Homo sapiens: one gene and its partner. The protein of the gene in region 2 purifies or fractionates together with the protein of the main gene of each other region. This does not show direct contact. Each region holds a gene or a part of one and is shown on either strand. Other genes may lie near its edges. The genes, in order: CDC27 and ANAPC11.

Region 1 (8,322 bases), about 35 Mb from region 2:
ATATTTTACTGTATTTAGTCCTTAAAACTATCTTGTTAAACAGATATTTCTCTTCTATTTTAAAGATAAGGAAAATAAGGCTCAGAATGACTTTTGGCTTAAGATCAAATGGCAAATGAGTATCTGAATTCAGATTCTCTTTCCTTTTTCCGTTTTTTTTTTGAGACGGAGTCTCGCTCTGTTGCCCAGGCTGGAGTGCAGTGGTGTAATCTCGGCTCACCGCAACCTCCGCCTCCCGGGTTCAAGCAATTCTCCTGCCTCAGCCTCCTGGGTGGCTGGGATTACAGGCATGTGCCACTACACCGGCTAATTTTGTATTTTTTAGTAGAGATGGGGTTTCTCCATGTTGGTCAGGCTGGTCTCAAATTCCCAACCTCAGGTGATCTGCCCACCTCAGCCTCCCAGATTCTCTCTTATATCATTCTGCTGTTCCTTCTTTCTGATCCCACAGTCTCAGGCCGACTATAAATCTCGAGAGAAAGACAAATGGGCGACAAAGAACTAGTGAAACTGAGAAATTATTTCAAGAATTTGACTTACAGAAGATCCTACTGATCAACTGCTTTAGCCTCATGCCTTGTTGGATGTCTTTCTCCAAATATAGAAACTGCTACTAGTGACATAGGAGGCCCCTGAGCAAACAGGTTACATCTAGCATATCAACTGATATTGTCCACCAAGAAAACTGTTGCCAAGAATTCTGAGGTTGGTTCAGTGGGAATGAGTACTGTAATGGATTAGTGATGCCTACTATGGTTGCAAATCAGAGAAGTGGTAATTGCTACTCTTGGGAAAGCGGAATCAGACAGATTACTAGTTACCGCCTGTGGACATTAGTCTCAGTTCTTCATCCAGAAAATGGCAATAGCAATGTCTATTTGATAGGATTATTGAAGATTAAATTAGTAACTAATATTAAATACTTAGAGTACCTAGTATACAGTAAGAAATCAATAAGTGATAGAATTATTGTTATTATTACTGAGCCAGGATAGTATCTGCTCTTACTACACTTAATTCTAAAATCTTTCCTCATATAAATATGGTTAAACCGAATGGTGAGGTTCTATATTGAAAGAAACTAACATTTACTGAGCAACTTTCCAAGTGCCAAGCATTGTATCAGGTACATAAATAACGTGGATTAAACAGCTTTATGTGGACTAATCTGGGAATCTTGCCACCAATTCTATGGGAAAATCTAATTGAATTCTAAACCATGAATTTACAATTTTTAAGAGCCTAACTATAATAAACTAGAAACTGCCTATTCTTTAATAATAAACAAAAACAAAAAGGAAATACTAGAAATAGAAGACAGTGGCCGAGTACAGTGGCTCACATCTGTAACTCCAGCTCTTTGGGAGGCTGAGGCAGGAGGATCACTTCAGTCCAGGAGTTCAAGGCTGCAGTGAGCTATGATTGTGCCACTGTACTCTAGCCTGGGCGACAGAGTGAGATTCTGACTCAACAAAAATTTTTAAAAATACAGCAAAATATGGGGCCTGCCTAGGTATCAATGAAAATATTTTTAAATAGATTATTCACAATAAACATCACTTTTGCATAAGTGAATGGAGTAGATTAATCTATTGTATAATCTTCTTTCTAAGCCTTCCATTCCTTCTCACCTTTCTAATCTTTTCATTGGGACCTTAAACTCCTGCTGCCCAGATCTTCCTCACTTTTCTCACTGAATTCCCATTCTCCACCGAGGAGACAGCTCTCTCACATGGACAGTAATCACCTTACATCCCACTATCTCAGAGTCAAGGTAAGGCTGGTTTCCACTTAACTTCTCAAAACTACTTCCAAGCATTGCTCTTTGTCCTTTTGTGAAATTTCCTGCCCCTGAGGTTTAGGCCTTGTTCTCACAACTCTCAGCTACTAAACCCATACTGTTTGACTTGTAAATTCCATTTAAAAGTACATAACCCAAGGAAATGACTCAAAAAAAAAAAAAAGCTGTACACAATGATCTATATCAGCATCTTAGAAAGGGAATTATAATAATGACAGAAACAAAACATACATTATCAGTGGTGTTTATTAAGCATTGATTACCAAGCCAGATGGCTGTGCTAAGGGCTTTAAATAAACCATCTCATTGAATTTTTAATTCTAAGGGGCAATGATTATTTTATAGATGAAATATCTGAATTTTCAGATATTAAAGTAACTCGTCCAAGGTTATAAAACTGTACATTTAAGTGACAGGTTAGGATTTGTTCCAAGGCTATAGAGTCTAAATCCATGTTCTTCACCATAGAATACAGACTCTTTTCTTAAAAAAAAAAAAAAAAAAAAAAAATACATGGCATGGTGGCCCATGAGTATAATCCCAGCACTTTGGGAGGCCAAGGCAGGTGGATCACCTAAGCTCAGGAATTTGAGACCAGCCTGGGCAACATAGCAAAACCCTATCTCTACCAAAAAAAAAAAAAAAATTAGCCAGGCGTGGTGGTCCGTGCCTGCGGTCCCAGCTACTTGGGAGGCTGATGTGGGAGGATCGCTTGAGCCTGGGAGGTAGAGGTTGCAGTGAGCTGAGATGGTCCCACTGTACTCCAACATGGGTGACAGAGTGAGACCCTGTTTCAAAAAAAAAAAAAAAAAAAAAAAAAAAAAAAACCCAAAACAACAAAAACCCTGGGGGAAAAAAAAACCTAAAGATTGAAAAATGATTAAGTAAATCATAGCATATAAACCTGAATCAATTCTACATAGTTATTAAAAGTAGTATGTAAGGGAACTACACAGAAAAAAAGTAAAGATTTTATGAACTAGTGTCAATCAGAAAAACAACAAGATGATGATAGCTAGAATCTTGTTACAGTGATAAAAAGTTATGGAATTTCATATATGTTATTCATTTATCATTCTACAGCAATGAATAGATTTCAAACCTTCTGCATAAAGGCGTTCTGCGAGGAAAACCGCATCTCGGTAAGCATAGTGGTTTAGTGCTTGCCATATAGCAGCCTGCAAATGGAGGAAAAAGAACATAAATATACATACATACAGACTTTCAAGGTAACTACTAGCACACAGCCTTACATCAAATACTGAAATTAATATCCCTAATTTAAGTGATAAAACCCCAATGCCCACAGAGCAAACTCCAGAGTGTGCCGGGCAAGGCTCTTCACAGTATGGCTCCTAACATATCTGAATTTCCTCACTCAACTCTCTATGGACTTTTAGGCTTCTGTGCCTTTGTACACCCTTTTCCTCCATTGGGCAATGTGGGCTCCCCTCACCAGTCTCCCCTTATAAACTGCTCGTCCCTAAAGATCCAGCTTAAATAACATCTGCCCCATAAAGCTTTCCTGGCTGATGTCAAGCCATTTCTTTTTTAAGATACCTCTTCTAGTAGAGCACTCATAACATGGTTATTTGTTAACAGGACTGCCAACCCTACTAAACTACAGACTTTTAGCAGCAGTGGTTCTCAACCACTTTATGTGATATACATGACAGAGATATTAAAATGTATGTCATCCTCCCACAAAAACTTCCCTATCTATTACCTTTAATGCCACTCAATTCTCATCCACTCCAGGAAGCATATTGGAATGCAAATGAGTAAAGTTATCATAGGAATAACTTTTAATTTTTTGAATATATGTTTTCTCTTTTAGAATTACAAAACATATAACCTAAAGTATATATGAGATAGAAGGACATTTTAAGTAACAATAACCAAAGACATTTAGGCCCATGTACTCACCACCCAGCTTAAGAAATAAAATATCTCTGAAACTCCCTGTGTGTTCCTTGTTGATACCAAAACCTCTCCCTGCCCCAAAGAGGAAACCACCACACTGAATTTTCTTGACCTTTCTCTTGGTTTTCTTCACAATTTTATACATTTGTACATATCATCTCTAAGCAGTATAACATTTACTTTTTCCTGTTTTTGAACTTTAAATAAATACAATCATATTGTATACATTCTGCTACGATTTGCTTTTGAAATCCAATGTTTTGAAAATTCATTCTTGATGTGTGTAGCTAGAGTTCATTTGTTTTCATTGCTGAATAAATAATATTTCCATTGTATAAACATATCAAAATCCAAAATGTATTTTATCTATTTTACAGCATGTGGACATTTGGGTTATTTCTAGGGTGTTTTTTTGTTTTGTTTTGTTTTTCCAATTATAACAATGCTGCAACAGTCTTAGATTCATCTCCTGGGGTATATATTTAAGAATCTCTCCAGCCTATCACGGTGGTGTGAGCCTTTAGTCCCAGCGACTCAGAAGGCTGAGCTGGGAAGACTGCTTGAGTCCAGGAGTTCAAGGCTATGATCATACCTGTGAATAGCTGCTGGAGTGCAATAGGAGCAAGACTCCCATCAAAAAAACACAAAAAAGAATCTCTCCAAATTAGGATATATATTTAGGAATAAAATTACTGGGTTGTTGAATATGCATATGTTCATCTTTACTAGGTAATGTCAAATCATTTTTAGTAATAAACTACTTTTGAGATATCTCACACCTGATCATGATACAAGCGTTATTTTTTATTTTTAGCACATACACCAGCTTATAATTTGTTGAATGATTTAAAAAGGTTACAACGGAAACCAGTAAAATCTGGTTACTGATCACTAGCTAACATTGTACCAGTACATCTAAATTATATTAAGTGATTAATATGCCTTAGATACAGTAAAGGCTCAACAAATTTTGTTGAACAAACAAGTAAATGTTTAATAATTCTGCAATGAGTATATTAATTATAATTTTAAAAATAAAAGTAGTAAATGACTTAGCCCTTTCTATTTCCTCAAGAAAGAACAGTAATGAACTTAGTTTGGGATCTCCAGAGCCTCTTGTTTAACCTTTGTTTATATAGCTTAAATTTTATAAAGTCTCAAAGATGTCTAATTTTACCATTCCTATCTAGATACAAGGAAAAAGATGAGATTAGGCACCATTATTATACACTCTAATTGCACCAAGTACCTTTCCTTTGTAATACTTCCCACTGCTATAATTCTGTATTAATTTAGGAGAGTATTTGAGTGATGTTTTCCTTACTATATTACAAACTCCACAAGGTAGGGGCTACGTCTGTTTTTGCTCATTATTATACTCCCAGTATCCATTATGTGCTTTTAAAGCAGGTGCTTATATGTTGAATGAATAAGCAAATGATCTTTAATTTCTAGCAGTCTTCCACTGTTGACACTCTTGTACGTTAGTCTTAGCATTAAGTTTCTTTGTATTCCTAGATGTATATCTAATAATAAAGAATCTCTGGGAGTCTCTATTGAAAGAAACTCTGTGATAAATAGAAGAATTATTTTATTATGCAAATAATTACCACCAAATTACTCCTTTATGAAATCTGGGATTTCCTAAGAACCTACATGTTTAATTTTGCTGTAAGTGAAAGAAAATGGTGAGTAGAATGAAGATACCAAAGATTTGATGTTTGGAGACGTGCTCAAATTTGTGTGCCAGCACTTCCAGTAGTGGGACTTTGTGGGAAATACTCAACTTTTCTCAGCCTCAATCTCTTCATCTGATAAATGGAGTTTATTTATTGGAGTTGTTTTGTGGATTAAATGAAATGATCCATTTATAATGCTCCTAGTATACTATCATACATTAAGCACTTGGAAAACCTTTTCCTTGCCAATCTCTTAATATAAAGAAATTCAATAAATATGTAGTTTCTGTTGCATAACATCTCCCCAGCATACCTGCTACAACTGCTTATTTTGCAATATATAAGCCACAAAAGACTCAAATGATTTACCAGCTATTTTACTACTATGGACCACTAGGAAAATTTCACACACATATACTAAAGTCAAAAAGTCCTAGAGCTTTGAAATTTTTTCTGTCCTTTTAAAATTAAAGAAATAAGAGGCAAGGGCGGGGGGAAAAAAGAAGGAAAAAAGGTATCATATTCAAGAGTTGTATCCATTTCTGACTTAAAATCAAGCTTTGCTCAGAACATCATTCCCTTATCACCAGTTCTTAAGAGCATCAGAAAAAACTTGCCATCTCGAGAATCTCACATACTGCTTCCATCCCGCTTTGCTCAATCAATTCTAAGTTCCTGACTAACAGTGTCTCTTGTGCCGGGATTGGGGGGAAGAACAGATTATTCTCTAAGGCACTACAGATTAGTAGCTGATGATGAACAGGGCTAAAATCAGCACCTCTGCCCAACTGATGGTGTGGGCCTTCCCTTAAAAGAACACCCAGTGCATTACCGCTAGAGTTCTACAAATTAAAGCCAGATGAACGAAATGCTGCTAAAAGAAAGTTATGAAGCCAAAAAGAACAACGCTCCTCTCCCTCTCCCCTAAAAAATGTTTAAGAGAAATCTGACTGATTAATGGGTTAGTCCCCAGGTGCACTAATTTAAAAGATAAATAAACCAACAGCTTAAAGTTGCAAAATTCCTTACCAGCTAGCTATTCTTAAATATAAAATATTATTTAAAATATAAACAAACCTCTATAAGTTGTACTTAGACTTAAATGTAATCACTATAAATTTTTCTCTTTTTTTTTGAGACAGAGTCTCACTCTGTCACCCAGGCTGGAGTGCAGTGGCGCGATCTCGGCTCACTGCAAGCTCCACCTCCTGGGTTCACGCCATTCTCCTGCCTCAGCCTCCTGAGTAGCTGGGACTACAGGTGCCTGCCACCATGCCCGGCTAATTTTTTTTGTATTTTTAGTAGAGAAGGAATGGTTTCACCCTGTTGGCCAGGATGGTCTCGATCTCCTGACCTCGTGATCCGCCTGCCTCAGCCCCCCAAAGTGCTGGGATTACAGGCGTGAGGCACCGCGCCCGGCCTGTAATCATTATAAATTTTTTGTTAGAGAAAGCTTATTACAAAAAATTTGTTTACTTGTTTTTGTTAAATTTTTTATACATTTTGTGTTCTTGTTTTTGTCAAAAAAGCTGTCTTTATTTTATTTTATTTGTTGGTCTTGAACTCCTTGGCTCAAGTGATCTGTCTGCCTCAGCCTCTGAAAGTGCTGGGATTACAAGCGTGAGCCACTGTGCCCAGTCAGCTGCCCTTTTTTAAAAACCATAAAATAAATGGATAATAAAGGCTTCAGACAATGTAAGAAGATACAAAGAAAAAAATCACTGTTGAAATTTCATATTATACATTATAATTGAATTTCTAGGATACTGATTTAGTTTAGATGCACGTCAGTGGTTCTTACTCTGGGCAATTTTGCCTTCTTACTCCCAATTAATGCCCCAACATTTAGCAATGTCTAGAGGGTATTTTTGGTTGTCACAAATGGAGGGGTCATCCAGTGGTTAGAAGCCAGGGATGCTACAAAACATTCTACAATGCACAGCTTCCAACAAAGTATTAGCTTGCCCCAAATGTCAATAGTGCTCAGATTAAGCAGCCCTGGTCTACATGATCATGCAGTTGGATTATTCTACTAGTCTGTATGTCTAACTCTTGTCTCTTCCTCCCTTTCCAACAGCACCAGATAAATATTCCCAAAGTGGTGCTTTTATTACATAATTCCTCTGCTCAAAAACTCTTCTGCTCATATAATGGTTATTCATTACCAATGCACATTAAATCTAAATTTCTCATTGAGTAGCCAAAATATGTTACTCTTTGAATCCATGTTAGATGCTGTCCCTGAACATTTTATCCCCAGCCAAGAGTACTCCTTCACCATCTAATGATCTCTAAAACAGTATCATGTATATAGTACCCAATTGCTATATTGCTTATTAAATTAATTTTCGAAAGGCTTATTTACAACTTCATCCAACACTTCTGTGAAGTCTTACCCCTAGGAATAATTGCTAAATCTATATAAAATCTCTTTGCTTCTTTTTTAAAAACCAATTTCACCAGGTGACTTTTATAAATATTCAAAAAGCTCTCACTGAAGTCACTTAGGCTAGTGTGTCTTTCCAAATAGTTACCATTAAAAATAAAAGAACTGACAGAAATTCTGCCTCATATGTGAGACTTTTGTAAGGACTCAAATATAAAGTAATACTCTTCTGAGAGGTAGTAATTTGAGACGGAGTTTTAATTTAGGCATATATGGTATATCGGACTGGCCATTCTACATTAAAACTTTAAAGAAAAAAAAATGCAGAAAACAGTTCTTCATATTTTCTGTGAACTTTTTCCTATGCCTAGTAATACCATCAACTCTGAGGCATTCCAAGAAAGAACAATTTTCCAACTTACTCTCATTGCTTTCCAAATACACGCAATCTGTCATCATAGTTTTTTTTTTAATAAAGACAGTATCTTATATATCTGTCCTATTTTTATTCTCTTCCTAATTCTTTCCCATTT
Region 2 (7,355 bases):
ACCAAGGCACTGGAGCTCCACGACTCCTGGCCTTCGATTGGAGGCCCCTCTCTGCCAGCTCTGCCCCTTGGGGGGCACCAGGCAGGACTGCCAGCCGCTCTCCTGGCAGGTGACATCAGCCTTCAAGCTCACTGTGCCCTCACCATTTCATGCTCCCCCAAGGTCCTGGTCATGTCTTCTCTTGGGTATCTTCCCAGGACAGGCACTGGCACTGGAGCCCTGGCACTTGTTTCTGGGTTCCATGCTTCCCAGGTGTGATGGTGAATGCTGAGTGTCAGCTTGACTGGATTGAAGGATGCAAAGTATTGTCACTGGGTGTGTCTGTGAGGGTGTTGCCAGAGGAGATTCCCATTTGAGTCAGTGGGCTGGGAGAGGCAGACCCACCCTCAATCCAGGTGGGCACCACCTAATCGGCTGCCAGCACAGCCAGGATACAAGCAGGCAGAGGAACGTGGAAAGACTAGACTGGCTGAATCTGGCCTCCATCTTTCTCCCATGCTGGATGCTTCCCGCCCTCGCACGTCGGCCTCCAGGTTCTTCAGCTTTTGGACTCTCGGACCTACACCAGTGGCTTGCCAGGGGCTCTGCAGCCTTTGGCCACAGGATGAAGGCTGCACTATCGGCTTCTCTACTTTTGTTTTGGGACTCAGACTGGCTTCCTTGCTCCTCACCTTGCACATGGCTTATTGTGGGACTTCACCTTGTGATCACGTGAGTCAATACTCCCAATAAACTCTTCATATATACTCTTCATATAGAGTCCTGTCTCTCTAGAGAACCCTGACACAGATTTCAGGTGAGGCCTGGTCTACTCCTCAGGTTGCTGTGAGGAAGGGTCAAGAGACACTGGGCACGGGTCACTGGCCCCATGAATGCCAAGGGCTCCCTAGGTTACTGGAGACACAGCCTGTGCTCTGTCCAGAAGCAGCCTGAGATGCCGGGGCTGCCACTCCCCCAGCGGCCCCTTCCCACCACGATTGTGGGGAGCAGAGGCACACAAAGGAGCCTCCCAGGGCCACCTTTCCCTAGGAAGGGAAGCCTCAGACGTGTGGACACACTTCCCAGTGTCAGGACACTGATCCCTACACTGTGGGAGGCCCAGCCCCGCTGCAGACAGTCCCAGTGAGAACAATGGACGCCCACTCAGAGATGGTGGCCTTCAGTCTGGAGGCGCCACAAGCAGTGGCCGCCAGCTTTGCACAGCCAGGGTCCCTCAGAGCCAGCCTGAGGGAGGGTCCCAGGGCCGCCGCCGGCAATCCAGCAGGCAAGAGCATGCCTGAAGAGCATGCCCCAGGCTCTACCGTCTGATCCTGCTCCTTCTCCTCCCAGTCATGACTCAGGGTTTGACGAGGGCCTTGGCGTTTCACGGAGATGTTTATTCATGAGAGTTTTCATATCAAAACACACCGAGACCACATCTATATGCCGAGAACACAGGCACCCAGAGGCCTCCAGCAAGATTTGAGTAGTTTAATGAGTTTTCACTTATTGGATAAAAGTGTCAACATAGTGATGGCAAAACAAACGCAGCTCCAGCCCTTGTTTCCACCTTGTTGCAGCTCAGGGGCGCTGTCCCCAGCAGCCATCGGCGCCAGCATGAGGAAGGAGTCTCAGGATGCCCCTCCAGCGAGAGCCAGGTCGGGCCTCACTCCTTGAACTTCCATTCCTGGCGGCACATGGGGCAGTGCTGCTGCACCTGCTGTGCGTGCAGCCACTTGAGGATGCAATGCATGTGGAAGCAGTGGGAGCACTGGCCCCACACCAGCGGGCAGTCGTCGCCGGGCACCTTGCCTACGGAGGGGAGGTGGGGAAAAGGACAGGCATGACCAGGCTGGACACAGAGCATGTGACAAGCCAGGCAGGGGTGCAGGTAGGGACCCTGGGCAGTGGCTCCAGCACTGCAGCCTCTCATGTTTCAGAGAAGCCGAAATCAGGAGTGTTACCCAATCGGTCTCCTGACCAGCCCGCCCCCAGGCGAAGACCAGCAATGACCAAGGGACACCGGACATGCGGCCTCCACCCGGGGCAACCGCAGCAGGCGCCTCCCCTCACCCAGGCTCATCATGCTCAGTGGGGAGCCCAGGGGCCTCTCTGAGGAGGTGGCGCTCTGGCCTAGCCCACCCTGTGTCCCCTGTGCTTGAGGCTGGGGAAAAAGGGCAATGTCTGACCTACAGGCCCTGGGCCCATCTGCAGACACTTGATCTGTGATGCCAAAAAGGTCACATGAATGGTCAAGGCACCAAGGAGACGTGCATCTGAGTAGTGAACTGGTCTCTTGATCAAGGGCAGGAGGGGTGGGGTCTGGGGACCTAGAAGACTCTTCCCTAGACATCAGGGATCCGGTGTGCTGCCCAGGCGTTGGGGAAGCTGTGTTGATGGGCACCTGTGGATGGGCCCTGCCTCCCAGGACAGGCACAGGCTGCGGGCACCAGCCCAAACACCTAGAAATGCTTTCTCCATGGAGAGGACCTGACACAGAGAGGGATGCTTGTATCAGCCATGATCAAGAGAAATGAGTGTCCCTGATCTCCAAGAGCCTGGAAACCCCTGAGGAACAGCTGCTGCCAACAGAGCACAGCAAGTCCCAGCCCCAGCCCCACGGCAGGGTCGGCCTGGCATTGTGGAGCTGGAGCTCGTGGCCACCCTCCTGTCCTGGCAGCGCCGGCCCCACGGCATGCCCACTCCCAGCCCTGGGAGGACCTGCCCGTGGGGGTTTCTGGCCTCAGCACAACTCTGCTTGATATCGGCCCTTTCAAATGAGAGCTGAAGCCTGCTAGCCCCCTGAGGAGAGGGGTCTGGGCCACTCTGAGTACTCGGGGGAGGCCTCGTTTAGTCAAAGGTGTCACTTCGTTCTAGTGCATTCCCCACCCGAAGCCGGCCTGGGGTGTCTGATGAGTCCGCAGATGCACTGAGGGTGACTCATTCCAGGACCTGCTGGTCTCCTGATTGCATTTTTTTAAATTAAAACTCCTCTCGGCAAAACTGCACTGCCACCAGAGTCCCCTGGGATGCGGGATGGACTCATTGTTTACCAGCCTCGGGCTCCCACGGTCTTTGTTGAATGAACTTAGTCACTCTGAATTTTTCACAGGAGTTCAATTTTAGCAAAAGAAACCTGGTGCTGCTTAGTATGGAAGCACATTGGACTCGTCAAACGCTTTGCGCGTTAACACTGACTCACTATGACTTAACCATCAGCAGGTCCAAAAATTAGACTCTCAACTCCTGAGTCTCTGCAGCCAACAGGCCCCATGTTAACAAAGCCTGAGCACACTGTGTCAGCGGAGACATGCTGAGTGTTCAGGGCAACACCCTCTGGATGCCCCATCACAGGCCCAGCTGGCATGCTGCAGGGCGGGCTCTGCAGGCTGCCTGTGGACCCACCACTGCAGTCACTTGGGGGCTACCTAGCACCACCTCTAATCCACAGGATTCACCACCCACATCTGGCCCACGGATGCAGCCAGACGAGGTGTGGACACATGGTTCGGAGGAATTTCAGAAGTTAAGCTGCTGCTCCAGAAGTCGAATGCCTGCCCTCAGGGCATCCCACGCACTCTTTGTTACATCCTTAAGAGCAATTTAAAAGAGATCAAATAAAACTGTGCCTTGTGAATTTAGTTATTAACCTAATTAGCTATTAACTACAAATCCAATCAGGTAGAGTCAATCAATAATTTCCTAAGATTACACCCTACCCGTTTGATTAAATGAGGATTAATTCCTGAGTGATGAGATTTCTATTTAGCTAGGGCCAATGTAAAAGTTAAGCCTAGAATAAAAAGTATTTGTACGGGCCAGGCGCCACACCTATAATCCCAGCACTTTGGGAGGCTGTGGCAGGACAGAGCCAAGAGTTTGAGACCAGCCTGGGAAACATAGTGAGACTCCATTTCCACAAAAAAAATTAAAAATTTATGTAGTTTTGTTCAGGCATGGTGGCTCACGTCTGTAATCCCAGCACTTTGGTATGCCAAGGCAGGCAGATCCCTTGAGCCCAGGAGTTCAAGACTAGCCTTGGCAACATAGCAAAACCCTGTCTCTACAAAAAATAAAAAAATAAAAAATTAGCCAGGCATTGTGGAGCATGCCTGTGGTCCCAGCTACTTGAGAGGTGGAGGTGGGAGGATCACTTGAGCTGAGGAATTGAAGGCTACAGTGAGCTATGATTTTGCCACACTGCACTGCCGCCTGGGTGACAGCAAGACCCTGTCTCAAAAAAAAAAAATTGTACTAAGATTCAGTCATCTCAATTTCACCTTAAGAAGCAAAGACAGGGGCGGGTGCAGTGGCTCACACCTGTAATCCTGGTACTTTGGGAGGCCGAGGTGGACGGATCACCTGAGGTCAGGAGTTTTAAGACCAGCCCGGCCAACATGGTGAAACCCTGTCTCTGCTAAAAATACAACAAGGGCTGGGCGCAGTGGCTCATGCCTGTAATCCCAGCACTTTGGGAGGCTGAGGTGGGCGGATCACGAGGTCAAGAGATCGAGACCATCCTGGCCAACATGGTGAAACCCCATTTCTGTTAAAACTACAAAAATTAGCTGGGCATGGCGGCGAGCGCCTGTAGTCCCAGCTATTCGGAAAGCTGAGGCAGGAGAATCACTTGAACTAGGGAGGCGGAAGTTGCAGTGAGCCAAGATCGTGCCACTGCACTCCAGCCCTGGTGACAGAGTGAGACTCTGTCTCGAAAATAAATAAATAAATAAAAATAAAAATACAACAAATTAGCTGGCTGTGGTGGTGCATGCCTGTAATCCCAGCTACTTGGGAGGCTGAGGCCGGAGAATCCTTTGAACTCAGAAGGGTGGGGGTTGCGGTGAGCTGAGATGGTGCCATTGCACTCCAGTCTGAGCAACAGGGCAAGACTCTATCTCAAAAAAAAAAAAAAAAAAAAAAAAAAAAAAAAGCAAAGGAGGCAGATGAGTGTGGTGGTATGCTACTTGGGAGGCTGAGACAGTAGGATGGCTGGAGCCCAGGAGTTCACGTCCAGCTTGGGCAACACAGTGAGACCCTGTCAATCAATATGGGCATGCACCTGGCCCTACAAAAATACGCCTGGTTACTTGGGGTAGTGAGTAGCTTCTCGGTCCTCCCCATTCCCCACTGTCCTCTCCATTCCCCACTGTCCTCTGGGGAGTTCTTCTTGTCCTCCCTGGGCAAAACCTTGACCCTTGCTTCTGCTTTACGCTCATTTCGGTCTCATGAAAAACCATTTCGCTGATGCAAAACTCTGCTTTCAACCTAAACATAATCAAACATTTCCACTTTTTTTCTTTTTTTTTGAGATGGAGTTTCACTCTTGTTGCCCAGGCTGGAGTGCAATGGTGCGATCTTGGCTCACCACAACATCTGCCTCCCAGGTTCAAGCGATTCTTTTGCCTCAGCCTCCTGAGTAGCTGGGATTACAGGCATGCACCACCATGCCCGGCTACTTTTTTGTATTTTTAGTAGAGACGGGATTTTACCATGTTGGCCAGGCTGGTCTCAAACTCCTGACCTCAGGTGATCCATCCACCTCGGCCTCCCAAAGTGCTGGGATTACAGGCACCTGCCACCATGCCCGGCTAATTTTTTTGGATTTTTAGTAGAGTCGGGGTTTTGCCATGTTGGCCAGGCTGGTCTCGAACACCTGGCCTGAAGCAATCCGCCTGCCTTGGCCTCCCAAAGTGGTGGGATTACAGGTGTGAGCCACTGCGCCTGGCCTATGCCATTCAATTTTGAGAATTTTCAAATAAAAAGTTTAAACTAATCTTTTTTTTGTTTGTTTTTTGAGATGGAGTCTTGCTCTTGGCTCACTGCAACCCCCGTCTCCCAGGCTCAAGAGATTCTCCTGCCTCAGCCTCCCCAGTAGCTGGGATTACAGGCACACGCCACACACCCAGCTAATTTTTGTATTTTTAGTAGAGATGGCGTTTCACTATGTTGGCCAGGATGGTCTCAATCTCCTGACCTTGAGATCCATCCACTTCAGCCTCCCACAGTGCTGGGATGACAAGTGTGGGCCACCACACCCTGCCTTGATCTCTTGACCCTGTGATCTGCCTACCTTGGCCTCCCACAGTGCTAGGATGACAGGTGTGAGCCACCGTGCCGGCCTCCATCTCTTGACCTTGTGATCCGCCCGCCTCGGCCTCCCACAGTGCTGGAATAACAGGCGTGGGCCGCCATGCCGGCCTCCATCTCTTGACCTTGTGATCTGCCCGCCCAGACTCTAATCTCTTTTTAATCCCACGTATTTCACAGCTGAGTTTCATCCTATGGAGTCTGTGACAGGATCTTTATATAAACATGGGTACCAACCACCTGGCTTTTTTTCTATCAACTTTTCTTCATGAGATGAAAATGAAAATGTTGGGGGGGGCACGGTGGTTCGCGCCTGTAATCCCATCCCTTTGGGAGGCTGAGGCGGGTGGATCACCTGAGGTTGACAGTTCGAGACCAGCCTAACATGGAGAAAGCCTGTCTCTACTAAAAAATACAAAATTAGCCGGGTGTAGTGGCACATGCCTGTGATCCCAGGTACTTGGAAGGCTGAGGCAGGAGAATCGCTTGAGCCCAGGAGGCGGAGGTTGCAGTGAGCCGAGATCGCGCCATTGCACTCCAGCCTGGGCAACAAGAGTGAAACTCCATCTCAAAAAAAAAAAAAAAAAAAAAGAAAAGAAAGAAAGAAAAGAAAATAAAAATGTGGGCCAGGCAAAGTGGCTCACACCTGTAATCCCAGCACTTTGGAAGGCTGAAGCGGGCAGGTCACCTGAGGTCAGGAGTTCAAGGCCAGCCTAGCCAACAAGGCAAAACCCCGTCTCTACTAAAAATAAAAAAATTAGCCCAGCATGGTGGCACATGCCTGTAATCCCAGCTGCTTGGAAGGCTGAGGCAGGAGAACCGTTTGAACCCGGGAGGCAGAGGTTGCGGCAAGCCGAGATCGCGCCATTGCACTCCAGCCTGGGAAACAAGATCGAAACTCGGTCTCAAAAAAAAAAAAAAAAAAAGAAAATGAAACTGGGTATTTCGTGCAGGTATTTAACAGGAGCTACTGAGGCTAGTCCAGCAGGCAGCAGACAGCACAGAGGGGACACTCACAGTCGGGGCCGCTCAGACAGCATGGAGGGGACACTCACAGTCAGGGCAGCATCCGTTAAATGCCATCCTGCAGATGCCACAGTTCTCATCGTTGGCCACCCAGAGCCAAGTGGCCACGCCGTTCCAGCACTTAATCTTCACCTTCATGGCAGCAGAGCCTGCGGCGGAGGGAACAGGACGACTGGCTAAATTGAGTCTGCAGAGCTAGAACGTTTAGGCACCAACACAGGTATAAGCCTGCCACAGTGCAGTCCCAGCTACTCAGGGGG

What was found.
Region 1: the proteins of ANAPC11 (region 2) and CDC27 purify together in Homo sapiens (affinity purification with mass spectrometry; 8 studies listed by BioGRID, with this or other methods). This does not show direct contact.

What each region holds. Positions count from the first base shown.
Region 1 is NC_000017.11:47,178,659-47,186,980, forward strand, and holds part of CDC27 (cell division cycle protein 27 homolog), read right to left. Parts: intron 2,980-8,322; coding exon 2,904-2,979; intron 1-2,903. UniProt on the Homo sapiens protein: Component of the anaphase promoting complex/cyclosome (APC/C), a cell cycle-regulated E3 ubiquitin ligase that controls progression through mitosis and the G1 phase of the cell cycle.
Region 2 is NC_000017.11:81,894,356-81,901,710, reverse strand, and holds the end of ANAPC11 (anaphase-promoting complex subunit 11), read right to left. Parts: intron 7,245-7,355; 5' UTR 7,234-7,244; coding exon 7,125-7,233; intron 2,470-7,124; coding exon of another isoform or gene 2,169-2,469; intron 1,792-2,168; coding exon 1,646-1,791; coding exon of another isoform or gene 1,561-1,645; 3' UTR 1,456-1,560; downstream 1-1,455. UniProt on the Homo sapiens protein: Together with the cullin protein ANAPC2, constitutes the catalytic component of the anaphase promoting complex/cyclosome (APC/C), a cell cycle-regulated E3 ubiquitin ligase that controls progression through mitosis and the G1 phase of the cell cycle.